6 separate regions of the Homo sapiens genome follow, and regions 2, 3, 4, 5 and 6 are each linked to region 1. Evidence: fine-mapped expression QTL. A gene starts in region 1. Each other region holds a variant in brackets. All regions are shown on one strand. Distances are between the middles of the regions. Region 1 holds the start of EBPL (EBP like). Region 2 overlaps CYSLTR2 (cysteinyl leukotriene receptor 2). Region 3 overlaps KPNA3 (karyopherin subunit alpha 3). Region 4 overlaps EBPL (EBP like). Region 5 has its middle 5.4 kb from the start of ARL11. Region 6 has its middle 61 kb from the start of SPRYD7.

What was found. PIP is the estimated chance that this variant, and not a neighbour inherited with it, causes the effect.
Region 2: its variant is the best candidate, but not a certain one, in a credible set for the expression of EBPL in pancreatic islets (PISA, PIP 0.87).
Region 3: its variant is the best candidate, but not a certain one, in a credible set for the expression of EBPL in whole blood (INTERVAL, PIP 0.53).
Region 4: its variant is the best candidate, but not a certain one, in a credible set for the expression of EBPL in subcutaneous fat (TwinsUK, PIP 0.82).
Region 5: its variant is the best candidate, but not a certain one, in a credible set for the expression of EBPL in whole blood (INTERVAL, PIP 0.72).
Region 6: its variant is the best candidate, but not a certain one, in a credible set for the expression of EBPL in whole blood (INTERVAL, PIP 0.71).

Annotation. Positions count from the first base shown.
Region 1 is chr13:49,689,422-49,694,523 of GRCh38, reverse strand. EBPL (EBP like) reads left to right here and starts at 3,038. Exons shown (of 4, transcript NM_032565.5): 1 at 3,038-3,270. The coding sequence starts at 3,100. RefSeq lists silencers at 2,913-3,112, 3,143-3,282 and an enhancer at 2,746-3,743.
Region 2 is chr13:48,697,204-48,702,305 of GRCh38, reverse strand. All of the region lies in intron 4 of CYSLTR2 (cysteinyl leukotriene receptor 2), which reads right to left. Among named protein-coding and RNA genes, the nearest start is that of CYSLTR2, 46 kb to the right of the region's middle. The variant G/A (reference allele first, on the strand shown) is at 2,928.
Region 3 is chr13:49,754,065-49,759,166 of GRCh38, reverse strand. The region is part of intron 1 of KPNA3 (karyopherin subunit alpha 3); the gene reads left to right. Among named protein-coding and RNA genes, the nearest start is that of KPNA3, 36 kb to the left of the region's middle. The variant C/T (reference allele first, on the strand shown) is at 2,866.
Region 4 is chr13:49,662,693-49,667,243 of GRCh38, reverse strand. It overlaps EBPL (EBP like), which reads left to right. Exons shown (of 4, transcript NM_032565.5): 3 at 4,049-4,187. Among named protein-coding and RNA genes, the nearest start is that of EBPL, 27 kb to the left of the region's middle. The variant AG/G (reference allele first, on the strand shown) is at 2,130.
Region 5 is chr13:49,620,822-49,625,441 of GRCh38, reverse strand. No RefSeq gene overlaps it. Among named protein-coding and RNA genes, the nearest start is that of ARL11, 5.4 kb to the left of the region's middle. RefSeq lists an enhancer at 4,453-4,620. The variant C/G (reference allele first, on the strand shown) is at 2,249.
Region 6 is chr13:49,873,086-49,878,187 of GRCh38, reverse strand. No RefSeq gene overlaps it. Among named protein-coding and RNA genes, the nearest start is that of SPRYD7, 61 kb to the left of the region's middle. The variant G/A (reference allele first, on the strand shown) is at 2,672.

The DNA.
Region 1 (5,102 bases):
AGTAAGTCATAAAAAGGATTTTGGTATTCTATATGAAGATCATCATTAAGCAAGAGGGATAATAGATTAATAAAGATCACTAGTTGGTAAGGCTAAGGACAGAAAACGTCCTTTGGATTTAGTGATGTAGAGGTCGCTGGTCACATTAGTGAGTGAAGCACAGACGAGATGGTGAACAGGTCCATGAAATGCATGGAATCAAGAAATACTTGGCTGCTGAGGAGGAGTTGGTGATGCCTTAGATGCCAAGTTTGGGGAGAGAGAAGTATCGGGGATGATTTCTAGGTTTCCGGGTTGTAGTAACTGATGAGTGGAAGTAACATGAGATAGGAAGGAGAATCAGACATTGGGGTGGAAAGTGATGAGCTCAGTTTGGGTTATATTGAGACATCCAAGTGACTGTCAAGTAGGGCAGTTGGAAATACTGGTCTGGAGTCCAGAGAATAGGACCAGGCTAGAGATTTGAGTTCTCTGCAGGTTTTGCTGGTCATTAAAGCAGAGGGTAAGGATGAGACTGCCTGGATTTGGGGTCTGGAGTGAGAACAGGGCCGAGGACTGGGTTGTGGAGCTGCAGCATTCACTAGGCATTTGTAGTGGAAGATGCACTTGCAAAGGAAACAGAATGGCTAAGGAGGCTGTATTCTCAGAAAACCAAAGGAAAAATATTTCAGTGCTGGGATGCTGCTGAGAAGTAAACTACACTAAGAAAATGAACTGTTCTTGGGGTTCAGTGATGTGGAGGCCAGTAGTCACCTTAGTGAGAGCTATATCAGTGTGATAAGGCAGAAACCAGAGTAGAAAGGACTGAGGAGCAGGGTCAAGACATGAAGACAGGGGATCTGATCAGTTTTTTCATTAAGTTTCTATTTTGCTCTGAAGGGGAGGTGGGCCGAGTGGTCCCTAAAGGATGATAAGTTAGTTACAGGACAGGATCCAGAGCATAGGTGGCTAGATTGACCATACTCAGTCGCCAGTTATTTAACTGAGCAGCTAATATATGCCAAACTCTGTAATAGGTGCCAGGGATACAGCAATAAAAAAGCTAGCCACAACCCCTGGCCTTGAAGACTTACATTATAGTGGCAGGAGATTAGCAATAAGTGTGTAAACAAGGATCATTCTATCTGGTGTTAACTGCTATAAAAAATGGTATAGGAAGTGACTAAGGGAAAAATTTCTTGTGTTCAGTGCCAGCATTTTTTTTAATAACTGTAAAATACACATAAAATTTGCCATCTTAACCATTTTTAAGTGTGCAGCTCAGTAAAGTATGTTCACGTTGTTGTGCAACCAATCTCCAGAACATCATCTTGCAAATCAAACTATCCGAATAAATAACACTCCACTTTTCCCCGCGCCCCCCCCCCACTCCCGCCCCGCCCCACCCCTGGTAACCATCATTCTATTTTGTTTCTGCAAATTGATTATTTTAGATATTTCCTGTAAGTGGAATCATAAGTATGTTTTTGTGACTGGCTTATTTCACCGACCTCATAGGGTTGTTGTGATGTTAAATAATGTAGGTTTGTTCCCGGACCAAACTGGGGGTTGGGCAGCCCAATAATGAGGTGCAGATGAACTGGGGAAGAAGAGTTTTTATTTCTGCAACCGGTTACAGGGAGAAGGTCTGGAAATTATTGCCAGACCAACTCATAATTACAAAGTTTTTCCAGAGCGTATATACCTTCTAAGCTATATGTCTACGTGTAAGAGTGCATTCATCTAAAGACGTAAGTGATTAACAACTTCTAATCCTGAAGACCTTCCTCTGGAGCCTCAGTAAATTTACTTAATCTAAATAGGTCTGGGTGCTGGGATGATTACCCTTATTTTGTCTCTTGCTAAATCATGGAGGCTTGTGGAATTCCTCCAGACTCCCAATAAACTTGTTTTTGGAGGCCTGGGGAGTTTCTTCAGACCCCCAATAAAACTTGTTTAATCCTAAACGGGTCCTGTTAAAAATTCCTTAGTTATCTTGTCATGCTTCAAGGCCCAAGAAAGGCCTAGGCAAAACTCTTGGTGGGCTTTTGTTACATTCCAGACTTTGGTATATGGGCACTGACTCTTTCAGCTTTTAATTTTTTTTTTGTTTTTTGAGACGGAGTCTCGCTCTGTTGCCCAGGCTGGAGTGCAGTGGCGCGATCTCGGCTCACTGCAAGCTCCGCCTCCCGGGTTCACGCCATTCTCCTGCCTCAGCCTCCGGAGTAGCTGGGACTACAGGCGCCCGTCACCACGCCCGGCTAATTTTTTGTATTTTTAGTAGAGACGTGGTTTCGCCGTGTTAGCCAGGATGGTCTCGATTTCCTGACCTCGTGATCCGCCCGCCTTGGCAAAAAGTGCTGGGATTACAGGCGTGAGCCACCGCGCCCGGCCTCAGCTTTTAATATTTAATTTAACCACTCAGTGCTGAAGCAGTTGTGATGGAGGCCTGCGATAGTGAAACCTGGCCTGCCACAGGTTAAACGCATCTATCGCCAAGCCAATAGGACTTACCGCTCCTCTCACCCACCCTTCTACTTTTCTGGATTTTTAAGAAATGGAAAGATTGTCAGAGTAGGCCATAAAGGCTTTAAGCCGGCTGGTGGCTGAAAACTCCCTTGGCCCCCAGCCTCCCTGGTAAGGCTTGCTGCAGCCTAATTAAAACCTTTTGCCCCTAAAATTCTGCCCCGGTCTACTGGCAAAATTTCCACTACCTAGGCTTCACTTTGTGGCTTAAAGTTTGAGCCTTGTTAAAAGCGAAACAACATCAAAAGGTGTGGCCCTATTACCAATCCTTTGGGCTCGGTTTGGGAACAGGTTTGGTCGAGGCGGTTGCGCAAGTTGGTGAGCACGTTCCTTCTACGGAACCTCCATGGGCGGCACCTGGCAAAACCACCGGACTCAGCAGGCTGGCCAGGGTGCGAGGCGGGCACGGAATCCTCGCTCTGGCCCCGACCCGGCCGGGGAGCCCCGTCCCTCCCCGGACCGCCTTGGCCAATCAGCTCCGCTCCTCCTTGGCCATCCGGCTCCGCCCCTTCCCGGCCAGCCCCGCCCCGTCGTTTCTCTCCCTGCTTTCCTCTGCCGCATGGTCCTGGGCCGTTGGCGTCGGAAGCCTGAAGCATGGGCGCTGAGTGGGAGCTGGGGGCCGAGGCTGGCGGTTCGCTGCTGCTGTGCGCCGCGCTGCTGGCGGCGGGCTGCGCCCTGGGCCTGCGCCTGGGCCGCGGGCAGGGGGCGGCGGACCGCGGGGCGCTCATCTGGCTCTGCTACGACGCGCTGGTGCACTTCGCGCTGGTAAGTGCCATCGCCTAGACCCTGCACTCCCCATCCCAGAGAGTGGGAGCGGGGGCGGCAAGGCGGGGTGAGGGGGTCCTGCGGCTTTTTGCAGCGAGCTGGCCGCCCCTCCCCCTGCTGCAGGAAGTCTGTTAGCTGAGAGGCGCCTGGAGGCCGCGGCGGCCGGAGTTCTGATTCCCAGGTCTGTGAACAGAGCGCAGCTTACCTTGTGCTGCCGATTCCTCCACCAAACTTTAAAAAAATTCTGTACGTGCTATGTTAGTTTAGAAGATACCTCAGCTTCCTCGGCTTTGTAACCTGCACGTAACTGTTGAACTGGACATAATTGAGAGTAGAATTGAGGTCATTTTTAAATGCCCCAGAGGGGGCAAGGAGAGATGCTTGCTCCGGAGGCAGCAAGGCTATTGTCGCAAAACCCGAAGCCTTTGCCAAGACAAACGAAACACCCGTGTCTAATGTGTGCCAGGCGCATTACTGAGTTTAAAATTTCAGATCTTTACAGCATCCATAAATTAGTTATTATTGTTCCCCATTTTACAGAGGTGAAGGTAGGCGCTGCAAAATTAGGTGACTTTCCAGTGCCACACAGCTGGCATGATTCTGAGGCAGTCTAGTCTGGCTCCCAAGTTTGCACTCTGTGTATCAGTCGAGGTCTTAGGAAATATGTGTCCTTAGAGATTCAACCCATTTTATAAAATAGCCAGGAAGGTTGTGTTTAAGGCATTTATATTGAAATGCCCCGCCCCCCACCACACACGCGCACGCACACACACACACACACTTTTAAGTTTTTTTTAAACTATGCCCAAGTATCAGTTTGTTTTTTTTTTTTTTTGTAAAGTTGACCTTGTTTAACTCTAGACACACCTGTGGCTAATGTGAAGCCAAAGTCAGTAGTATTGAGAAAGCAAGCCGAGTTTTGGGTAATCATCGAGTTCTGTAAATGTTTACGGGTTGGCTTTGTGCCCATGACTGATGTTGCTGGAATTCTTTTTATTCTGATAATCAACATGTAGAGATAAGGGACAGTGAATGTTTCTCTCAACTCCTTTATTTATAGAATTCTTTTTTTTTTTTTTTGTCTTTTTTTTTGTTGTTGTTCTTGAGACAGAGTCTAACACTGTTGCCCAGGCTGGAGTGTAGTGGCACTATCTCGGCTCACTGCAACCTCCGCCCCTTGGGTTAAAGCTATTCTCCTGCCTCAGCCTCCCGAGTAGCTGGGATTACGGGCGCCCGTCACCACGCCCAGCTAATTTTTGTGTTTTTAGTAGAGATGAGGTTTCACTATGTTGGCCAGACTGGTCTCAAACCCCTAACATCAGATGATCTGCCCACCTTGGCCTCCCAAAGTGCTGGGATGACAGGCGTGAGCCACCGCCACCGCCACCAGCCGAGAATTGATTTTTAAGCTATCACTTGAACACAAGGTTTCCCACAGAACAAGGGAGATAAAGCAGATTGCTAGGCCCGGTTAGAAAAAATGTATAACAAAATGTATAACATAACAAAAATGTTGCTAGGCCCAGTGAGAGAAAACTGTGTAACATATTGGCTGGGTATAACTGTATATAGCATATCAGAATGTATATATATAAAAATGTATAACATATCGGACACAGTGGCTCATGCCTGTAATCCCAGCATTTTGGGAGGCTGAGGCGGGTGGATCACGAGGTCAGGAGTTCAAGACCAGCCTGGCCAACATGGTGAAACCCCGTCTGTACTAAATATACAAAAATTAGCCAGGTGTGGTGACGGTGCCCATAATCTCAGCTACCCGGGTGGCTGAGGCAGGAGAATTGCTTGAACCTGGAAGGTGGAGGTTGTAGTGA
Region 2 (5,102 bases), 990 kb after region 1:
ATTAGGTATATCTCCTAATGCTATCCCTCCCCCTCCCCCCACCCCATGACAGACGCCGGTGTGTGATGTTCCCCACCCTGTGTCCAAGTGTTCTCATTGTTCAATTCCCACCTATGAGTGAGAACATGCAGTGTTTGGTTTTCTGTCCTTGCGATAGTTTGCTCAGAATGATGGTTTCCAGGTCATTCATGTCCCTACAAAGGACATGAACTCATCCTTTTTTATGGCTGCATAGTATTCCATGGTGTATATGTGTCACATTTTCTTAATCCAGTCTATCATTGATGGACATTTGGGTTGGTTCCAAGTCTTTGCTATTGTGAATAGTGCCACAATAAACATACGTGTGCATGTGTCTCTATAGTAGCATGATTTATAATCCTTTGGGTATATGCCCAGTAATGGGATGGCTGGGTCAAATGGTATTTCTAGTTCTAGATCCTTGAGGAATTGGCACACTCTCTTCCACAATGGTTGAACTAGTTTACAGTCCCACCAACAGTGTAAAAGCGTTCCTATTTCTCCACATCCTCTCCAGTACCTGTTGTTTCCTGACTTTTTAATGATTGCCATTCTAACTGGTGTGAGATGGTATCTCATTGTGGTTTTGATTTGCATTCCTCTGATGGCCAGTGATGATGAGCATTTTTTCATGTGTCTGTTGGTTGCATAAATGTCTTCTTTTGAGAAGTGTCTGTTCATATCCTTTGCCCACTTTTTGATGGGGTTGTTTGATTTTTCTTGTAAATTTGTTTAAGTTCTTTGTAGCTTCTGGATATTAGCCAGATTTTAGGTTTTACATTTAAGTCTTTGATCTTTCTTGAATTAATTTTTGTGTAAGGTGTAAGGAAGAGATCCAGTTTCAGCTTTCTACATATGGCTAGCCAGTTTTCCCAGCACCATTTATTAAATAGGGAATCCTTTCCCCATTGCTTGTTTTTGTCAGGTTTGTCAAAGTTGAGATGCTTGTAGATGTATGGTATTACTTCTGGAGGCTCTATTCTGTTCCATTGGTCTATATCTCTGTTTTGGTACCAGTACCGTGATGTTTTGGTTACTGTAGCCTTGTAGTATAGCTTGAAGTCAGGTAGCATGATGCCTCCAGCCTTGTTCTTTCGGCTTAGGATTGTCTTGGCAATGCGGGCTCTTTTTTGGTTCCATTTGAACTTTAAAGTAGTTTTTTCCAATTCTGTGAAGAAAGTCATTGGTAGCTTGATGGGGATGGCATTGATCTATAAATTACCTTGGGCAGTATGGCCATTTTCACAATATTGAATGTTCTTCCATTTGTTTGTGTCCTCTTTTATTTCATTGAGCAGTGGTTTGTAGTTCTCCTTGAAGAGGCCCTTCACATCCCTTGTAAGTTGGATTCCTAGGTATTTTATTCTCTTTGAAGCAATTGTGAATGGGAGTTCATTCATGATTTGGCTCTTTGTTTGTCTGTTATTAGCATATAGGAATGCTTGTGATTTTTGCACTTGATTTTGTGTCCTGAGACTTTGCTGAAGTTGCTTATCAGCTTAAGGAGATTTTGGGCTGAGACGATGGGGTTTTCTAAATGTCATCTGCAAACAGTGACAATTTGACTTCCTCTTTTCCTAATTTAATACCCTTTATTTCTTTCTCTTGCCTGATTGCCCTGGCCAGAACGTCCAACACTATGTTGAATAGGAGTGGTGAGAGAGGGCATCCCTGTCTTGTGCCAGTTTTCAAAGGGAATGCTTCCAATTTTTGCCCATTCAGTATGATATTGGCTGTGGGTTTGTCATAAATAGCTCTTATTATTTTGAGATACGTCCAAATACCTAGTTTATTGACACTTTTTAGCATGAAGGGTTGTTGAATTTTGTTGAAGGCCTTTTCTGCATCTATGGAGATAATCATGTGGTTTTTGTCTTTGGTTCTGTTTACATGATGGATTACGTTTATTGATTTGCATATGTTGAACCAGCCTTGCATCCCAGGGATGAAGCCAACTTGATCGTGGTGGATAAGCTTTTTGATGTGCTGCTGGATTTGGTTTGCCAGTATTTTATTTAGGATTTTTGCATCAATGTTCATGAAGGACATCAGTCTAAAATTCTCTTTTGTTGTTGTGTCTCTGCCAGGCTTTGGTATCAGGATGATGTTGGCCTCATAAAATGAATTAGGGAGGATTCCCTCTTTTTCTATTGATTGGAATAGTTTCAGAAGGAATGGTACCAGCTCCTCTTTGTACCTCTGGTAGAATTCGGCTGTGAATCCATCTGGTCCTGGACTTTTTTTGGTTGGTAGGATATTAATTATTCCCTCAATTTCAGAACCTGTTATTGGTCTATTCAGGGATTCAACTTCTTTCTGATTTAGTCTTGGGAGGGTATATGTGTCCAGGAATTTATCCATTTCTTCTAGATTTTCTAGTTTATTTGCTTAGAGGTGTGTATAGTATTCTCTGATGGTAGTTTGTATTTCTGTTGGATCAGTGGTGATATCCCCTTTATTATTTTTTATTGCATCTATTTGATTCTTCTCTCTTTTCTTCTTTATTAGTCTTGCTAGCAGTCTATCAATTTTGTTGATCTTTTCAAAAAGCCAGCTCCTGGATTCATTGATTTTTTTTAAGGGTTTTTGTGTCTCTATTTCCTTCAGTTTTACTTTGATCTTAGTTATTTCTTGCCTTCTGCTAGCTTTTGAATGTGTTTGCTCTTGCATCTCTAGTTCTTTTAATTGTGATGTTAGGGTGTAAATTTTAGATCTTTCCTGCCTTCTCTTGTGTGCATTTAGTGCTATAAATTTCCCTCTACACACTGCTTTAAATTGTCCCAGAGATTCTGGTGTGTTGTGTCTTTGCTCTCATTGGTTTCAAAGAACATCTTTATTTCTGCCTTCATTTTGTTATGTACCCAGTAGTCATTCAGGAACAGATTGTTCAGTTTCCACGTAGTTGC[G/A]AAGTTTTGAGTAAGTTTAACCCTGAATTCTAGTTTGATTGCACTGTGGTCTGAGAGACAGTTTGTTATAATTTCTGTTCTTTTATATTTGCTGAGGAGTGCTTTACTTCCAACTATGTGGTAAACTTTGGAATAAGTGTGATGTGGTGCTGAGAAGAATGTATATTCTGTTGACTTGGGGTGGAGAGTTCTGTAGATGTCTATTAGGTTCACTTTGCGCAGAGCTGAGTTCAACTCCTGGATATCCTGGTTAACTTTCTGTCTTGTTGATCTGTCTAATGTTGACAGTGGGGTGTTAAAGTCTCCCATTATTATTGTGTGGGAGTCTAAGTCTCTTTGTAGGTCTCTAAGGACTTGCTTTATGAATCTGGGTGCTCCTGTATTGGGTGCATATATATTTAGGATAGTTAGCTCTTCTTGTTGAGTCGATCCCTTTACCATTATGTAGCAGCCTTCTTTGTCTCTTTTGATCTTTGTTGGTTTAAAGTCTGCTTTATCAGAGACTAGGATTGCAACCCCTGCTTTTTTTTGTTTTCCATTTGCTTGGTAGATCTTCCTCCATCCCTTTATTTTGAGCCTATGTGTGTTTCTGCATGTGAGGTGGGTCTCCTGAATACAGCACGCTGATGGGTCTTGACTCTTTATCTGATTTGCCAGTCTGTGTCTTTTAATTAGAGCACTTAGCCCATTTACATTTGAGGTTAATATTGTTATGTGTGAATTTGATCTTGTTATTATGATGTTAGCTGGTTATTTTGCTTGTTAGTTGATGCAGTTTCTTCCTAGCATTGATGGTCTTTACAATTTGGCATGTTTTTGCAGTGGCTGGAACTGGTTGTTCCTTTCCATGTTTAGTGCTTCCTTCAGGAGCTCTTGTAAGGCAGGCTTGGTGGTGACAAAATCTCTCAGCATTTGCTTGTCTGTAAAGGATTTTATTTCTCCTTCACTTATGAAGCTTAGTTTGGCTGGATATGAAATTCTGGGTTGAAAATTCTTTTCTTTAAGAATGTTGAAAATTGGCCCCCACTCTCTTCTGGCTTGTAGAGTTTCTGCCAAGGGATCTGCTGTTAGTCTGATGGGCTTCCCTTTGTGGGTAACCCTACCTTTCTCTCTGGGTGCCTTTAACATTTTTTCCTTCATTTCAACTTTGGTGAATCTGACAATTATGTGTCTTGGAGTTGCTCTTCTCGAGGAGTATCTTAGTGGTGTTCTCTGTATTTCCTGAATTTCAATGTTGGCCTGCCTCGCTAGGTTGGGGAAGTTCTCCTGGATAATATCCTGAAGAGTGTTTTCCAACTTGGTTCCATTCTCCCCGTCACTTGCAGGTACACCAATCAGACGTAGTTTTGGTCTTTTCACATAGTCCTCCCATATTTCTTGGAGGCTTTTTTCATTTCTTTTTACTTTTTTCTCTCTATGCTTCTCTTCTTGCTTCATTTCACTCATTTGATCTTAAATCACTGATAACCTTTCTTCCACTTGATCAAATCAGCTACTGAAGCTTGTGCATGCGTCACATAGTTCTTGTGCTGTGGTTTTCAGCTCCATCAGGTCATTTAAGGACTTCTCTACACAGTTTATTCTAGTTAGCTATTTGTCTAATCTTTTTTCAAGGTTTTTAGCTTCTTTGTGATGGGTTAGAACATCCTCCTTTAACTTGGAGAAGTTTGTTATTACCAATGGTCTAAAGCCTTCTTCTCTCAACTCTTCAAAGTCATTCTCCGTCCAGCTTTGTTCCGTTGCTGGCAAGGAGCTGCATTCCTTTGGAGGAGAAGAGGCGCTCTGATTTTTAGAATTTTCAGCTTTTCTGCTCTGGTTTCTCCCCATCTTTGTGGTTTTATCTACCTTTGGTCTTTTATGATGGTGACGTACAGATGGGGTATTGGTGTGGATGTCCTTTCTGTTTGTTAGTTTTCCTTCTAACAGTCAGGACCCTCAGCTGCAGGTCTGTTGGAATTTGCTGGAGGTCCACTCCAGACCCTGTTTGCCTGAGTATCACCAGTGGAAGCGGCAGAACAGCAAATATAGAAGAACGGCAAATGTTGCTGCCTGATCCTTCCTCTGGAAGCTTCATCTCAGAGGGTCACCCAGCTGTATGAGGTGTCAGTCGGCCCCTACTGGGAGGTTTTTCCCAGTTAGGCTACTCGGGGGTCAGGGACCCACTTGAGGAGGCAG
Region 3 (5,102 bases), 65 kb before region 1:
TGGGTTTTTATTTCCATTTCCTGGATTTACAGATTGAAATCTATGTGTGTTTGAATTCATTGTCTTATTGATAATTGATAATAATTGTATTGTCTTTGAACATTTGGAGCCTCTTCATGTTAGCTCTTGAGTAGTTTTTACAAGACTCTAGTCTCGTAAATATCTTTGATATTTGGTATGTTAAGATATTGCAGGCTTACCTTGTACCTTTTCTGCCCATTAGTTGGAATGAACCAGTTCTGTTTGCTATTGGTGGTATTTTTGAGAGTATTGTCTATGCACTCACTGATTTGGTCACTGTTTCTAGGCGTTGGAGATACACATCTCCAAGTAGACATCTTGGGGTGGATAGATATAGGATTAAAACAAAATTTTGTGTGTGTGTGTATGTATATAAACATATGTGTGTGTGTATATTTATATGTATACATATTTATATGCATATTTATATACATACATACACACATAAACACACACATATAATGCATATATTGATATTCCAATTCAAATTCAGGACTATGGGATTTTACTAAACAACTTCTATCATATATCCGTCTTTCTCCTAGGCCAAACTTCCTGTTTTTTTCTGACACCAGGAATAATAGAATATGACATTTTTACTCATTTGCTTTATTCCACATAGACACATAACAGTCTCAGAATAACAACACCAGCAGCGCTGCACCCAGTAATAGGGTTACCGAGAACAGTTTGGAGTTTTCCTGGTAGTTCTCTTTAGGGTTAACTGGAGATGCAGGGTTAAATTGCTGTGTTGAAAAGTTACACAGGATAGTGTGATTATGCTACCAAATGGATACACGTTTAGGTTCATTTCTTTATTTTTAGGGATTGCTTTTCTTGTTAAATTTGATTTTGTCATATTCATACGCAGTTTATTTTCATGGTTTTAAAGTCAAGTCCTAGTTTCCTTGTCATCACCTATATATTTATGTGTAAAATAATCATTGTATGTGATCTGTTTTATTTTTTGTTTTAGTATACTTTTGGCCTCTAGTTTGTGGTTTTGTTTTTGTTTTCTTTAGTCCTCTCTTTCTTAGTTATTTTCTATTGATTCCCCATCATGTACATTATTGAAATTAGTTGTGACCTTCTCTTTTCCTTCCCCCTCAGCATCTGATGTATATCCTTTAAAATTTTTATTAAAAACTGACCTTTATTTTGAGGTGATTGTAGATTGACATGCAGTTGTAAAATATAACACAGAGATCCTGTTTATCCTTTCTCCAGTTTCCCCAGTGGTAACATCTTGCAAGATGCTCGTACAGTATTTATGTTCATCCAAGTCATTGTTTGTATCAGCAGTTTGTTTCTTTTAATTGCTATATGGTGTTCCATGGTATGGATGTACCACAGTTTAAGCGTGAAGGATACCTGGGTTGTTTCCAGGTTGTAGCTATTAAGAATAAAGCTGTTGTAAACATTTGCGTACAGGTTGTGTGTGTGTGTGTGTGTGTAGATGAGTTTTCATTTATCTCATATAAATGTCCAATGTGTAGTTGCTGGGTCCTGTGGTTGTTACATGTGTACTTTAAGAAATGGCCAAAGGTGCTGTCATTTTACATTCCCACAAGCAATGTATGAAAACTCTCCATACTCACCAGCATTTGAAAGTATCACAATTTTAAATTTTAGATGTATAATAAGATTTCATGGTGGTTTTAATTTGCATTTCCCTAATGGCTAATAGTATTGAACATCTTTTCATGTGCTTATTTGCCATGTGTATATCCTCTTCCATGAAATATTTTTTCATTTCTTTTGCCCATTTTCTAGTTCCATTGGTTGGTTGGTTACCTGTTGAGCTTTGAGAGGTTTTTTGTTTTTGTTTTTTAATTCTAGATACTAGTCCTTTCTTGGATATGTGGTTGCAAATTTTTTTTTTTTAGTCTCTAGCTTCTCTTTTTATCTTCTTTACATGGGTGTTCAAAGAGCAAAATAGTTTTTTATTTTGATGAGGTCTAGTTTACCAACTATTTCTGTTATGGATCATGCTTTTTACGGTCAAGTTTAAGAACTCTTTGCCTAGCCCCAGATCCCAAAGAATTATCTCCTGTGGTTTTTCCTAAAAGTTTATAGTTTCACATTTATTTTGAATTAAATTTTTTTTAAGGTGTGAGGCTTAAGTCAGGGTTAATATTTTTGTCTGTCAATATCTATCTGGTCCAGCACTGTTTGCTGAAAAGTCTATTGATGTCCTCCATTTAATTGCTTTTGCACCTTTGTAAAAAATCAGTTGGATATATTTGTGTAGGCTTATATTGGGTTCTCTGTTCTTTTCAATGTGTATATTCTTCCACTGATATCACACAATGTTTATTACTGTAACTATGTAATATATCTTGAAATTGGCTAGATTGATTCCTTCCACTTCGTTTTTCATTTTCAGAATTGTTTTAACTATTCTACTTACTTTGCCTTTCCGTATAAATTTTAGAATAATTCTGTATCTGCAAAATATATTGCTGGGATTTTGATAGGAATTGCATTAAACCTGTATATCAGTATGAGGAGAATCAACATCTTTACCAAGTTGAGTCTACCAATCTATGAACACAATATGCCCCTCCATTTTTTCTCTTTTTTAAGCTAGAAACAGGATCTTGCTCTGTCACTGAGGCTGGAGTGCAGTGGTGTAATCATAGTTCACTGCAGCCTTGAACTCCTGGACACAAGCGGTCCTCCTGCCTCAGCCTCCCAAGTAACTAGGACAATAAACACTTGCCTCCATACCTGGCTAATTTTTAAATTTTCTGTAGAAGCTGAGTCTCGCTATGTATGGTCTTGACCTCCTGGGCTCAAGCAGTCCTCCCTCCTTGGCCTCCCAAAGCACTGGGATTACTTGAG[C/T]CATCATCCAGCATTGTTTGTTTGTTTTGAGGCAGGGTCTATCTCTGTCGCTGTGGCTGGAGTGCAGTGGCACAGTCTCCACTTACTGCAGCCTCCGTCTCCCGAGCTCAAGAGATCCTGCTACCTCACCCTCCCCAGTAGCTGAGACTACAGGCATATACCACGATGCCCAGCTAAATTTTTTTTTGCTTTTTTTTGTAGAGATGAGGTTTTGCCATTTTGCCCAGGCTAATCTCAAATTCCTTGGCTCAAGCAATCCACCTGCCTCGGCCTCCCGAAGTGCTGGGATTACAGATGTGAGCCACCACACCCGGCTGTTGTTTGTATTTTTAATTTCAGTGTCTATGTGTTCATTGCTAGTATATAGAAATATAATTGATTTTTATGTTGTATTCTGTGACATTGTTGAACTCACTTAATAGATCTGGAAAGTTTTTGGTATATTCCTTGGAATTTTTAAATCATCTTTTCTGCAAATAATTGATTGTTTTCTTTATTTTATTTTTTATTTTGAGATGGAGTCTCCCTCTGTCGCCAGGCTGGAGTGCAGTGGCACGATCTCGGCTCACTGCAACCTCCGCCTCCTGGGTTCAAGCGATTCCTCTGCCTCAGCCTCCCGAGTAGCTGGGACTACAGGTGTGCACCACCACGCCCAGCTAATTGTGTTTTTAGTTGAGATGGGGTTTCACTATGTTGACCAGATGGTCTTGATCTCTTGACCTCGTGATCCGCCCTCCTCAGTCTCCCAAAGTGCTGGGATTACAGGAGTGAGCCACAGCACCTGGCTGGGATTATTTTCTTTCTTTTGCATCTATATGCCTTTTACTTTATTTTCTTGCCTTATTTTACTGGCTGGAACTTCTTATACTATGTTGAATAATAGTGGTGAGAGTGGACACCATTTTCTTGTTCTCAATCTAGGGAAACATAGTATTCAGACTTTTCACCACTAGAATGTTAACTCTAGGCTTTTATTTTTCTGAGTGTTTTTACTATAAATGGATGTTGAATTTTGTCATTTTTTTCTGCATTGAATAATATAATCATTGATTTGTCTTCATTAGTCTATTAGTATGGTTTATATTGATTGATTTTCAAATACAGAACCAGCCTTGTATCACTAGAATGAAGCCTGCTAGTATAGTGACTTCTAGTTGGTAACATTTTGATAAGGATTTTTGTATCTGCAGTCATTGAGAATATTGGCCTGCAGTTTCTTTTTCTTCTTTTTTTTTTAATGCTGTCTTTTCTGGTTTTGTTATTCAGGTAATTTTGTAATTAGCTTCATAAAGTGAATTGAGAAGTGTACCCATCTGTTTTTTGTAGAGATTATATAAAATTGGTGTTAGTTCTTCTTTAGGCATTTGGAAGAATTCTCTAGTTAAACCATCCAAACCCTGAAGGGAAGTTTTAAAATTACAAATATAATCATCTTAATAGTTAACAGCGTTATTCAAATTAGGTATTTCATATTGAGTGAGGTGTGATAGTTCTTGCTTTTTGAGTCATTGGTCCATTTCATCTAAATTGTCAAATTTGTGTGTGTAGAGTTGTTTGTAGTTTTCCCTTGTTCTTTTGATGTCTGCAAAGTCTGTAGTGATAGTACCTTTTTCATTTCTAATATTATAACTCTGCATTTTCTCTTTTTTTTTGGCCAGTCTGCTGATTTTTTTTTTTTTTTGAAAGAACTAGCTTTTCATTAATTTTCTCTACTTTTTGTTTTCAATTTCATTGATTTCTGTTTATTCCTTCTGCTTGTTTTGGGTTTGTTTTGCTTTTTATGTTGTAGGGTGTCGAAGCTGGGAGTTTTGATTATTGGTTTGAGACTTTCTCTCTTTCTTAATGTTTGCATTAGGTGCTTTAAATTTCTCTCTCAGCACTGCTTTAACCTCTTTTCTGCTCTACTTCAGCATCTGATGTGATGCAATTTCCTTTTCTCACCAGTTAATAGTTAATAAGGCAATCAATACACTTAGTTGTTTTTTTGTTTTTATTCTTCTTGAGATGGAGTCTTGTTCTGTCACCCAGGCTGGAGTGCAGTGACGTGATCTCAGTTCATTGCAGCCTCCACCTCCCAGGTTCAAGCAATTCTCTGCCTCAGCCTCCGGGAATAGCTGGGATTGGATTACAGGTGCAACCACCACACCCGGCTATTTTTTGTATTTTTAGTAGAGATGAGGCTTCACCCTGTTGGCCAAGCTGGTCTTGAACTCCTGGCCTCAAATGCTCCACCCGCC
Region 4 (4,551 bases), 27 kb after region 1:
TTTTTATTGTTTCAGTGTTTAATAAGCAAAGAGATGGTTAAAGTTTAGCAGTAGAGGAGATGCCAGAGGGACTGCCAGAGGGAGATGCCACAGGGAGATGCGCTGGGACTGGTGGATTCCAGGGCCCCTTACTATCCGTCCCCTACCTTCCTCTCACGCATTAACCTTCCCCCACCATCAGCTCTGCTAAACTGTCTGTAGATTCAGACACGCTACCTCTCAGCTCCAGGCCTTTGCACATGCTCCTCCCTGAAACACCCTTATTTTCCACTCAGATCTGGAGTCATCTCTTGTGGTATAAGGCCTGAAATTAGGATTCAGTATTATGTCTGCCTTTTTTTTTTTTCTTTTTTTTTTAACAGAGTCTCGCTCTGTCTCCCAGGCTGGAGTGCAGTGGCGCAATGTCAGTTCACTGCAACCTCTGCCTCCCAGTTCAAGTGATGCTCTTGCCTCAGCCTCCCAAGTAGCTGGAACTACAGGTGTGCGCCACCACGCCCAGCTAATTTTTGTTTTTTTTTTTTTTTTTTTTTTTGAGACGGAGTCTCACTCTTTCGCCCAAGCTGGACTGCAGTGGTGCTATCCCGGCTCACTGCAAGCTCCGCCTCTTGGGTTCATGCCATTCTCCTGCCTCAGCCTCCCGAGTAGCTGGGATTACAGGCGCCCACCACCACGCCTGGCTAATTTTTTGTATTTTTAGTAGAGACAGGGTTTCACCATGTTAGCCAAGCTGGTCTCAAACTCCTGACCTCAACTGATCCACCCGCCTCGGCCTCTCAAAATGCTGGGATTACAGGTGTGAGCCACCCTCCCTGGCTGGGATTCAGTATTATGTCTGCTTTGATACCTGGTAAGATCCAGGGGGGCCTCAGATGGCCAAACTGCAAGTCTCCCTCCCCACTCTGCTTCCACATATAAGGTTCCCTAACCAGATAGCTCTCCCTATCAAGGGGAGCAGGCACAGATTTGGAGGGGACAAATGCTTGTCCCCTCAGTAGCAGGCTTCAGTTCCCACCAGTCTGCCTGTGGAATTATCCAGACAAGCCAATCACATCCTCTGTGGGGAACCAGGGCTCATCCCACCCCCTCCTCTTGTTACTGCAAAGCCTGCCTGCGTGGCCCCTGCCCGAACACTGTTCCCAGGTGCAACCCCTATGTGGCCCTGCATGGCGAGATGTCCTCCTTTCCCGGGCCACAGTGTGTGCAACTAATAAACCTCCTCCATCTCATCTGCCCAGTGTCGGGTCTTGTGTGTTCAGCCATCACCATAGCCCTCAGGCAGAAGTCCATCCCTCACCAACAGGGAAGAGAGGCAGTGATCAAAACACCTCCTCCAGGAAGTCTTCCCTGAAGTTCGTAGTCTGGCTTCAGTGCCACTTCTTCCCTGCCCTCATATTCGCTAACCGCCACTTACTGCCTGGTTTTCAGCCTCACTAGGATGTGGGCCACTAAGGGCCAACATGGTCCTACTTGCAGCTGCATTATCAGGGCCTACCATAACACCTTCCAAATGCTTAAAAAAAAAAAAAAAGACTTGTTGAAGGCTGGACACGGTGGCCCACGCCTGTAATCCCAGCATTTTGGGAAGCCAAAACAGATGGATCACTTGAGGTTAAGTTTGAGACCAGCCTTGCCAACATTGTGAAACCCTGTCTCTACCAAAAATACAAAAATTAGGCCAGGTGCAGTGACTCAAGCCTGTAATCCCAGCACTTTAGGAGGCCAAAGCAGGTGGATCACCTGAGGTCAGGAGTTCAAGACCAGCCTGACCAACATGGTGAAACCCCATCTCTATTAAAAATACAAAATTAGCCGGGCATGGTGGTGAGTGCCTATAATCCTAGCTACTTGGGAGGCTGAGGCAGGAGAATTGCTTGAACACGGGAGGCGGAGGTTGCAGCGAGCCAAGATCTGGCCATTGCACTCCAGCCTGGGTGACAAAGTGAGACTCCGTCTCAGTCAGTCAGTATTAGCTGAGTGTGGTGGTGGGTGCCTGTAGTCCCAGCTATTTGGGAGGCTGAGGCTGGAGAATCACTTGAACCTGGGAGGCAGAGGTTGCAGTGAGCCGAGATCATGCCATTGCACTCCAGGCTGGGTAACAGTGAGACTCCTTCTCAAAAAAAAAAAAAAAA[AG/G]ACTTGGTCAATATCTCTTTTTGTTCCTAAAGAACTGACATTTTACTTAGGTGATATTTTATTAGATTTTAGGTGCACTAACTGGTACATTTCACCTATTGTATGTATATTTAAATTTAGAGGAGAAACGTTTCAATATGACATTGTTTTCCAGTTAGTTATTGGAGGGCACAGGAGACTGCAGACAGTCAGCTAAGGACAGGCTGATGACTCTCGGTGGCCTCTCACAGAACATTCCCTCAGCATGTGCCTTGTGTGTTATCCCATTAAATAGCTAATCCTCTTATTGTCCTTTCTCTTAGGACAGCCTTTTGTTAGAAACCTTTGTCCCAGGCCCTGAGGGATCCTTCCTCTGGTCTTTATGAGACAAGAGCTGTGTGCTGCTCAGTAGCAGATCACAGGCTCCTCTGTGGACTTCACACCTTTTCTGAATAATGCGAGGCAGTATTAAAGGGGGAGACGAGGTGTGATCACTTCCATTTTTTCACTGTAATCATTTGAGATCTTAGGACCAGCATGTATTACTTTTACAAATTAAGAAAGTAATTAAATAATTTTTAATGGCCTCCATAATACCTGGCCATCATTCCAGCCCTGAAAAGACTTTCTGAGTCATGGTGTTCCTGAGAAGAAACCACTCTGATAATGGGTCTGGATGGATCTCTGAGAGCACACTGGCTCCCCAAGCAGCACAGCTGAGACTGTGTGAGAGCCATTGTGAGTTCCCTGTCCCTGTGGGCGGAGATGCCCCTCTGCCCACTCCGATTCATTCTGCAGTCTGGGCTCTCTCCTCCCCTCCCTGCCCACTGTCCCTTCAGCACCTAGTTTCTCTTCTGTTATTAATAAACGTGTTGTTGTATTGAGATAGAGTCTAGCTCTTGTTGCCCAGGCCGGAGTGCAGTGGTGCGATCTCGGTTCACTGCAACCTCCGCCTCCTGGGTTCAAGCGATTCTCTTGCCTCAGCCTCCCAAGTAGCTGAGATTACAGGCATGCGCCACCACGCCCAGCTACTTTTTGTATTTTTAGTAGAGACACGGTTTCGCCATGTTGGCTGAGCTGGTCCCAAACTCCTGACTTCAAGTGATCCGCCCACCTTGGCCTCCCAAAGTGCTGGGATTACAGGCGTGAGCCACCGTGCCTGGCCAAGAAACAAGTTTTTGGTTGTTTGTTTTTTTGTTTTTTTTTTTTTGAGACGGAGTCTCGCTCTGTCACCCAGGCTGGAGTGCAGTGGCGCAATCTCGGCTCACTGCAAGCTCCGCCTCCTGGGTTCATGCCATTCTCCTGCCTCAGCTGGGACTGCAGGTGCCCGCCACCATGCCTGGCTAATTTTTTGTATTTTTAGTAGAGACAGGGTTTCACCATGTTGGCCAGGATGGTCTCGATCTCCTGACCTCGTGATCTGCCCGCCTTGGCCTCCCAAAGTGTTGGGATTACAGGTGTGAGCCACCGTGCCTGGCCATAAACGTGTTTTTTATAAACATGTCCTTCATAACAAATTTCCCACATCTCCATTATACTTACAGAATTTATATGGAAATTTTGAAGTAAGGAATTACAATGTATTTACCAAGATCATGACTGGAGATTGTCTTTGCAAAATCTGACCATGTTGAATTCTTTTAAAATTCTGCTACTTATGTTGAAGAGGGTGGGGCTGAGGAGGGCGTGTATGTGAAAGCATGCTGGAAACTGAATGATTGGACACCTGTAAACCTGCTGCTGTTCTCAGTGCTTGTGTCAGGTGGTAAACGCATTTTGGTCCCAGGGCTTCTCCTGCCTTCCACTAAGGCATCGTGAAGAATGCAGAGAGAGTGGCGATTACTCATTTTATCTCCACCTTAAAGGAAAGAAAGGTCATTTCCATGAACTGTCATAAAAATTGTTGCCATTTGAGTAACAACATGGATTTTGTCTTTAGGGAAAGAATATGGCAAAGCTGATGCAAGATGGGTTTATTTTGATCCAACCATTGTGTCTGTGGAAATTCTGACCGTCGCCCTGGATGGGTCTCTGGCATTGTTCCTCATTTATGCCATAGTCAAAGAAAAATATTACCGGTAGGTGCCCTTCTTCTGTCCTGCTGGAAGGAGGGGAGACATTACATGTCCCAACACTTAGGTGACCTTTGGAGTAGGTTGTGACCACATATATTTGTTAGATAAAAGGTGGAAGAATAGAGGCTGGGCGCGGTGGCTCCCACCTGTAATCCCAGCACTTTGGGAGGCTGAGGCGGGAGGATCACCTGATCCCAGGAGTTTGAGACCAGCCTAGGCAATACAATGAGACCCTGTCTCTACAAGGAATAAAAAATTTAAAAATTAGGCGTGGTGGCACACGCCTGTAGTCCCAGATACTTAAGAGGCAGAGGTGGGAGGATCACTTGGGCTTAGGAGGTCAAGGCTGCAGTAAGCCATGATCACG
Region 5 (4,620 bases), 69 kb after region 1:
ACTGCTGGGGGGCACAGGCTCCCCCAGACATCAAGGAGCCTTGCCTGAGGGCCAAAGTCTTGTGTTCGCTGGGAAACCATGATTACTTTGTGACCCCAGTTCTGCCCAAAGGCCCTTGTGGCCTGAGTTTCTCTGTACAGCCCCGACCCTGACCCCTTCAGCTCAACCAGCAGGGAAGCTTTTCATTAGACACCCCAACGTGGGGAGGCTCACGAGGGCTACTGCCCCGGGAGGCAGCGCAGAGCAGAAGGTAACAGTGTGGCTTTGATTTGGGTCCACCTGGGGGCACACTTGGCCTCCACTGCTTATTTGCTGTGAACCTCAACCTGAATTTCTCTGCACCTCAGTTTCCTTCTCTATAAAATGAGGTTGATGACGATAATAATGGTACCTAACTTGAAGGGTTATTGGAAGGATTTAATAAGTGAAGACACATCAAGTACTTAGCCCAAAGCCTGGCGTCTAGTCCCAGACTAGTTCTGTTAGAGAAGGACAGGAGAGCCCTCAAACGTAGTGGTGTGGCTGGAGAAAGTGACGCTGGTGAATGTGCAAGCCCCAGCACCTTTGTGTGTCTGTGACTGCAGCTTCCAGACCTGGAATAAGGAAAAGGGGCTACACGGGGCTCACTGATACCAGGAGAGACAAAGGTCTTAGGCCCCATCTCTACTGCCCTAAGAGTGTGAGTTTAGAAATGTCCTCCTGCCAACTCTCATACAGGTGGTCAGGCCTGGAGGAGCACGGCACGCCCATTGCACTCACCAAAAAATAACTTGTAAGCCAGGATGCTTCTTCTGATGTTTCTTATGGGATCTGTTTGACCCAAGAGCTGGGGCGGTTTTCTGTGCAGCACAGCTAAGGGAAGGCAGGGGGCCAGGGGCACGCAGAGGACACACACAGGGACTGAAGGAGTCAACTGTAGGGACGACATCCAAATGGGTTGCTGGAAGACCATGGAAAGTTGGTGGTTTTTAAGGGGTTGTTTATCATGCAACAGAGCCTCGTGGTCACTTTTCTGCTCTCTACAGATAGGTCCAAAGGAGGAGAGTGCTAGAACAAGAGCTTTATTCTCCTGGAAAGTGCTAGAGAAACATGGACGGAGTCTCTTGTCCAGCCCTCCTTTCCCTGGGCTCCATAACGGCCCCCACCTTTTTATCTTGTTGTGACCTCCTCTTGCTCTGGTCTCTCACTTTCTCAACTTGCAATATGCAAATTAATAACTTTTTTCCAGGGACTGCCTCTTTTAAAAATCAAATTCTATTTCTTTCTATTTTCAAGCCATCCATACAAAATTCTGAAGGTACAAAAGAGTAGAGCATCAAGGACGTTCTCCTTTCACCGCAGTGCTCCAGCCATGCCAGACCCTCCCTGGGAAACAGCTCACACCATTGGTTTCTTAGACATTTTTCCAGAGATATTCTACGCACATATAAGCAAGTAGGGTGCATTGGGGTTTTTTTCATGGTTTTCCTTTTTTTTTCCCTCAATAATCACTTACTTTGAGGAATGCAATTTCTTGTATAAATCTCTCAATCAGAAGTTCTCAGCCATGAGCTGTGTTGAGGATCAGTGGGAGACAAAGGGGAGGAGAGACAGCCAGGAACCCTAGGAACCATCCACCTTTCCTACCCACCACCAAGTCCCCAGTGAGTGATGTACAAGATGGGGCTGGGTGGGGTACAAGTTACCTTTGTGGGTACTGTGGTGAGAACCAATGCTCCAATCATGCTGAAGGTTGAATGAAATTCTCCGAGAAATTTCCTCCCTCTATGACCATCATGTATTAGGCAACCCATGGGGCCCTAAGCTATATATCTGAATTTGGGGTGGTTGCTACAGATGTAACATGTGTATCAGTGACTGTTTACAGGTACTTATGCCCATGATTCAGCTTTCCCCAGATGTGGAGAAAAGTGGACAGAGAGTACAAGGTCTACTCATATACAGGAAAGAGTAGTTCTCAATGACCACTCTTGGAGAGTTTGATTTGAGCATGTGCCTGACATTCAGTGAGTGGGGACTAGAGATGCTAGACATCCTATAACACCCAAGAATATTTTGTGCAAGAAAAAAATGTTTCTTAAATTTGAATTTCACTTTTGAATGTCCCAAACATTTATGTAGTAGTTTAAAGAAAAAAAACACCATTTAAAAAGTATCTGGGCTGGGCTCGGTGGCTCAAGCCTATAATCCCAGCACTTTGGGAGGCCAAGGCGGGTGGATCACGTGGTCAGGAGTTCAAGACCAGCCT[C/G]GCCAATATAGTGAAACCCCGTCTCTACTAAAAATACAAAAATTAGCCGGGCATAGTGGAGCGTGCCTGTAGTCCCAGCTACTTGGGAGGCTGAGGCAGGAGATTCACTTGAACCTGGGAGGCAGAGGTTGTGGTGAGCCAAGATTGTGCCACTGCACTCCAGGCTGGGAAACAGAGGGAGACTCCGTCTCAAAAATAAAATAAAATAAAATAAAATAAAATAAAATAAAATAAAATAAAATAAAATAAAAACTATCTGATCCTAGAACCTAATTTTGTTTTATATGTAACCGCAGACTATTTTCATGTGGTTTTCATATACACTACACTTTCCAGAAACACAACTACTGTATGCATTGAGGAAAGTTTGCACTTTGTTCTGTTTGGAGCTTTTCCAAGAGCTGCTCATTATTTTGGAAAATCACATCACTGACAGCAGCGCTTTGAATAACAGCGTGGCATTTAAGTTGCTGATAAGACGCACCAAAACGGCGATCCACTGCCATGGTGCTCATGTGGATTCTAAATTTAGATGCAAGAACGTGACAACTTCATTAATGTGATTGTCCTGAGCACTTATGTATGGGAACATGTATTATTTTATTTCAAATTACCTTCCGTTGGGTAGAGTGGCTCACATCTGTAATTTAAGCACTCTGGGAGGCTGAGGCAGGAGGATCACTTGCCCCGCCCAGACCCATACTGGACATCACTCATTGGGGACTTGCCGGTGGGTAGGGAAGGTGGGTAGTGCCAAGGGGTCCTCACTGTCTCTCCTCCCTTTCATCTCCCACTGATCCTCAACAAGGAGTTCAAGACCAGCCTGGGCAACATAGCAAGACCCAGTCTCTACAAAAAAGTTAAAAATTAGCTAGGCATAGTGGTGCACACCTCTAGTCCCAGCTACTCAGAAGGCTGAGGCAGGAGGATCATTTGAGCCCAGGAGTTCGAGGCTGCACCACTTGCACCACTGCACTTCAGCCTGGGCTATAGAGCAAGACTCTGTCTCTAAAAATAAATAAATAAATAAATAAATAAATACCTTCATTTATTTCTTACGTTATAGTTACAGCATTATACTGATTGTTTTTCAAGATTGTGTGGCTAGGTAGATGCTATTGTGTATTATTTTCATTTCTAGACTTTACAAATGAATATTGTAAAATATTTGTTACATTAAAAAAGAGGCCACTTGCTCTGTTTCAGGGCTTATCAGTAGAGGAGGACATAGCTGGGTAGAGGAAACTGAAGAGAAGGGACCAGAAGTGGTGGTGCCAGGTGGGATGACCAAGAAAGACCTTAAATCAGCAGTCATCCATGGTGACAGCCAGAGGGGCCAGCATCTTGCCTCTGAATCAGTGAGCTCCGTTGCTTCATGGTACATGTGGTCTCATTCCTACATGGCACCTGCTTCCGCCTGTGAACTATGGTCTGCCCTGGAGCACAACGTGGGCAGTGGTTGCATAGGGGGCAAAGGAGCTTGCATGAAAAAGTGTGAGTCCACCACCAGAAAGTACTCCAAATTCATAATAGGGTTGGGATTTTTATGGGTGAAGATCTTAATTAGTTATAGGACACAGTAGATAATGATTGCAAACACATTTTATTTATATCTATAACACATAGATATATTTATTAACTCTATTTTTTTTTTTTTTGAGACAGAGTCTCGCTCTGTTGCCCAGGCTGGAGTGCAGTGGCGTGATCTCGGCTCACTGCAAGCTCCACCTCCCGGGTTCACACCATTCTCCTGCCTCAGCCTCCCCAGCAGCTGGGACTACAGGTGCCCGCCACCGCGCCTGGCTAATTTTTGTATTTTTAGTAGAGACGGGGTTTCACCGTGTTAGCCAGGATGGTCTCGATCTCCTGACCTAGTGATCCACCAGCCTCGGTCTCCCAAAGTGGTGGGATTAAAGGCGTGAGCCACCGCGCCCAGCCAACTCTATTTTTATATGTTTTTTAAAATATACATTTTGGCCAGGCACGGTGGTTCATGCCTGTAATCTCAGCACTTTGGGAGGCCAGGGCAGGAGGATTGCTTGAGCCCAGGAGTTCAAGATCAGCTTGGGCAACATAGAGAGAACCCATGTCTACAACTATATAATTTAAAAATTAGTCGGGTGTGATGGCATGCAGCTGTAGTCCCAGCTACTCAGGAGGCTGAGGCAGGAGGATTACCTGCACCTGGGAGGTTGAGGCTGCAGTAAGCCATGATTGCGCCACTGCACTCCAGCCTAGATGACGGAGCAAGACCCTGTCTCAAAAAATAAATATATAATATAATATAATATAATATAATATAATATAATATAATATAATATAATATAATATTAGTATAGTATAGTATAGTATAATATAATATAATAATTTGT
Region 6 (5,102 bases), 180 kb before region 1:
CAGCCTAGGTGACAGAGTGAGACTCCGTCTCACAGAAAAAAAAAATAACAAAGAACAGAAATTCATTCTCAGTACATGACCAGTATTATACTTTAGTGCTAGCCCTATCTGCAGAACAGCAAATGTAGTGTGAATCAATGCAAGCATGTATGTGAGATGTGGTTCTACGCTAAATCTGGCTTCATGCTTAACTATATTTTTTAAAATTGCCAAACTACCAATGTATTTCTTTACAATATTTCCTATATTTCTTATTTTACCTTCATCAAGACTACAAGATTTAACTATAAGCAATGTTAATTAGCCAAATTTCTCCAATTTTCTATCAGGTTTTAAAGAATATTTGCATGAAGAGAGACACACAGACAACGTATGACTTACACAGACCATCTGTGACATGCTTGGACTTTCTGTTTTGTTCTACATTTTCCCTTTTTCTTTCTGTTTTGTTTTTTTGTTTTTTTTTTTAAATAACCAGTCATTTTACTTTAGGACAAAAATTTGCCATACAAGATCCTTTTTCATACATAATTATTCTATTTTCTTTGGAATCTTTTCTTTAGAACCTATACCAAAAATACATCTTCATATCCATAACTTTGTTCACATCTCTCTCCTGTACTTACTGGTTACTTTCTACCTTGTTTCATAAATAACATTTTCAAACCCATAATTTGAATTAACCTTTAGATAACTTCTGAACCAGACAAAATGATTCTTTTTCTCAATAAAAACACATCTTTTTTGGCACACTTTATATACAGAATTATATATTAACTAGAATTCTTATTCTTAGTAACCTTAAATTTTAGTGAAAAAACCTAGGAAGTAGGAAATCCTGAGCTGCTTATCAGATATCAGCATTTGATAGATGAGAACTAATCCACAATTTGTAAAATTATTTTTTCCCATATCATAACCATTTATTAATTGGAAATGAATCAGATATCCAATAAGCATCAAAAATAATTTTAAGATTTTAAATTATACAAAATGTTTACCTATAACATGTATCCCATTTACATGTACTCAATCATTTCATTTTTTAAGTTCATCTAGATTACTTCTGAAAACTGAGATATAAGACACAACTAGTCATCAATCAAAGTAATTTCCATTTTTTATTTTTTATTTTTATTTTTTTGAGATAGAGTCTAGCTCTGTCACCCAGGCTGAAGTGCAACCTCCACCTCCTGGGTTTAAGTGATTCTCCTGCCTCAGCCTCCCAAGTATCTGGGATTACAGGCCACTGCCACCATGCCCAGCTAATTTTTGTATTTTTTTTTAAAGATGGGGCTTCACTGTGTTGGCCAGGCTGGTCTCGAACTCCTGACCTCGTGATCTGCCCACCTCAGCCTCCCAAAGTGCTAGGATTACAAGTGTAAGCCACCGCATCCAGCTAACCATTTTTTTAAATAGCCAGGATCTAAGTAAGAAACTTAAAGTTAAATACATAAGTATTTTTTGCCAATAACTCAGAAGATTCAGCTAACAACATTAAATTGATCTCTTTTGTCAAAGAAGGCACACAAACGAAGATTATTTTGTTTATTCCAGCTGGGTTCAGTTTTATAACCTTCTGTGCCAAACCCTGACACCTCAAAACATCTAGCAGAGACAAATATAAAACCTAGACAAAAATGTATGCTGACAATTCTGAAGACCCTTCTACTTTTATTTTATCAGTAATTTTAAAGCCAGCTTCTTTATTAAAGGTTTATGTAAGTCTTGTGAACTTGAAAAAGACTTTGGACTTAATATATGAGTTTTTTGTATTTATAAGCCAATTTGGTAGACACAACATATAACGTACATACATAAACATATATAGACATGTATACACACATATATAAACAAAGATACAATAGCCTTTGCCTTTGAACTGTAGCCATAAGATAGCAATACAAATCACCAGTTTATGTGGCTACACTTTGTTTGACTGGATAGGCAATCCAGTGAAGGCTGTGAACCAAAATTGTGGGTAAAGCAGTTTCCATGGCAATTTGTTTTTTAAAGGCCAAACCTCTCCAGACTCCAAAGAACACTGAAGCCAAACAGCACCATGGGAGAACATCGCATGATAACCAGGCCCAAGGCTGGGCGTGGTGGCTCACACCTGTATTCCCAGCACTGTGGGAGGCTGAGATGAGTGGATCACGAGGTCAGGAGTTTGAGACTAGCCTGACCAACATGGTGAAACCCCATCTCTACTAAAAATACAAAAATAAGCCAGGTGTAGGCCGGGCACAGTGGCTCACGCCTGTAATCCCAGCACTTTGGGAGGCCGAGGCGGGTGGATCACTTGAGGTCAGGAGTTCGAGACCATCCTGGCTAACACAGTGAAACCCCGTCTCTACTGAAAATACAAAAAATTAGCCAGGCATGGTGGCAGGCGCCTGTAGTCCCAGCTACTCGGGAGGCTGAGGCAGAAGAATGGTGTGAACCCAGGAGGCGGAGCTTGCAGTGAGCTGAGATTGCGCCACTGCACTCCAGCCTGGGCGACAGAGCGAGACTCCGTCTCAAAAAAAAAAAAAATAAGCCAGGTGTGGTGGAGCGCAACTGTAATCCCAGCTACTCAGGAGGCTGAGGCAGGAGAATCACTTGAACTCATGAAGTGGAGGTTGCAGTGAGCTGAGATCACACTACTGCACTCCAGCCTGGGTAACACAGC[G/A]AGACTCCATCTCAAAAATAAATAAATAAATAACCAGGCCCAACTCTGCTTAGAACAGCAGCACAAAAGCCTGGATACACAGAACTCCATCCCACTTTCCCATTCAACAGCAAACTCCAGATTCCAAACAATATTGGGGTCAAACAGTATTACAAAAGAATTTCAGTTTATTGAATTCTGATTTCCCATGGCACACACACAATCACCAAAACACAATTCAAATGCTACAGCAATAAACAAGCCCCAAGAGTGTCCAAGCTGAAACATTTGGGGTGCTTCCTCTCTCTATTGGTTGGGCTTGATCAACCTGCAAATAAAATTCCTTTGAAATTTTTCAAATTGAGAGGATCCAATCCTGCTGTGTGGTACCTGCAAGACACTCACTTGCCTGGACACACACACATACACACACACACACACACACACACACACACAAAACACACAATTACAAACAAGCCCCCAAGAATGTCTACACTGAAACAGTCAGGGTGCTTCTCTCAAGTCAGTTGGGCTTGTTCAACCTGCAAATGGAAATTTCTATAAATATTTCCCAAATTGAGAGGAGCAGATCCTGCTATCAGGACCCACAAAGGACACTATCCCATGTGGATGCAGATGTCAAATTTCAAAGGATGCTCTTTCTAGGCAATCAGGAACACAGTTGGGGTCAGCAGCAGGGCCAGAGGGAGACCAAAACTCACCTCCAGACAAAATTGGGTGGGCAGCTGCTTAGGATGGCTTCTGAGATTCCTGGCCTGCAGCAGCCAAACCATGAGCAATGTGTTCCTGGTCAGGGAACCAAAATCTGTTACCGAAACAGCAGGGTTTAGTTTAGGTCCTGCTGCTCCCCCTACAGAAAGCCAATGACTGAGATGATGAGTATTGCCAAGGAAGAAGGCTTTAATCGGGTGCTACAGCCAAGGAGATGGGAGGTCAGTCTCAAATCCATTTCCCTGACCAATTAAAATTAGAGGTTTATATGGCAGGGAAGAAATTTAGCAATGTGTGGGAAAACAGGAACTAGGGAGGAGTAAGAAAGCAATCATGATTAATGACGCATGAGATCATCTCACTTTCTGGATGTGGGGATCATCTGGTGAGTTTCAGTTCTTTGAAACTTTTTTTTTTTTTTTTTGAGATGGAGTCTCACTCTGTCACCCAGGCTGGAGTGCAGTGGCGTGATCTCGGCTCACTGCAAGCTCTGCCTCCCGGGTTCATGACATTCTCCTGCCTCAGCCTCCTGAGTAGCTGGGACTACAGGTGTCTGCCACCAAGCCCAGATAATTCTTTGTATTTTTAGTAGAGATGGGGTTTCACTGTGTTGGCGAGGATGGTCTCGATCTCCTGACCTCGTGATTCGCCCGCCTTGGCCTCCCAAAGTGCTGGGATTACAGGCATGAGCCACCGCAGACAGCCAGTTCTTTGATAGTTTTTGAGAGTCCTGGGTGTCCTTTCCTGAAGAAGGAACTCAGATAAAACAAATATAAGTTTAAGACCAGAGGGGTAAATTTCTATGTTTATCCAAAAGGACTGTCTGTGAGACTACTGGGTCACAGATTGTCAGAGAAAACTGGAACACAGACAATGTCTTACCTAAAGAAGAATTGCTGTCGTTGCTATTTTTTAGAATAGAACTTATTTTATTCTGATTATAAAATGTTATAGAATTAGCCATCAGAGAAACACAAATCAAAACCACAATGAAATACCACTTCACACTCACTACGTTGGTTATAATCAAAAAGGCAGATAATAACAATTGTTGGTGAGGATATGGAAAAAGTAGAACCCTCATACACTAATGGTAGGAATACAAAATGGTGCACTGTTTTGAAAACACAGTCTGACAGTTTCTGTATGTTAACAAAGAGTTAACATATGAGCCAGCAATTCTACTCCTAAGTATGCACCCAAGAGAAATAAAAACATATGTCCACACAGAAACTTGTATATGAAATGTACATGACAACATTATTCATGATAGTCAAAACTTTGAAACAATTCAAAGGTGAATGGATAAATAAAGTGTGGTGTATACAAGTCAATTTAATATTTTTTGGCAGTAAAAAGAAATGAAGCACTGATACCTGCTACCACATGGATGGACCTTGAAAACATCATGCTGCCTGAAAGAAGCCAATCGCAAAGAACCACATTCTGTATGATTCTAGTTACATGAAATGTCCCAAACAGACAAATCTATAGAAACAAATAATAGATTAGTTGTTTCTGGCCGGGTGCAGTGTCTCCCACCTGTAATCCCGGCACTTTGAGGGGCCAAGGCAGGTGGATCACTTGAGGTCAGGAGTTTGAGACCAGCCTGGCCAACATGGTGAAACCCCATCTCTACTAAAAATACAAACAAATTAGCCTGGTGTGGTGGTGCATGCCTGTAATCCCAGCTACTAGGGAGGCTGAGACAGCAGAATCA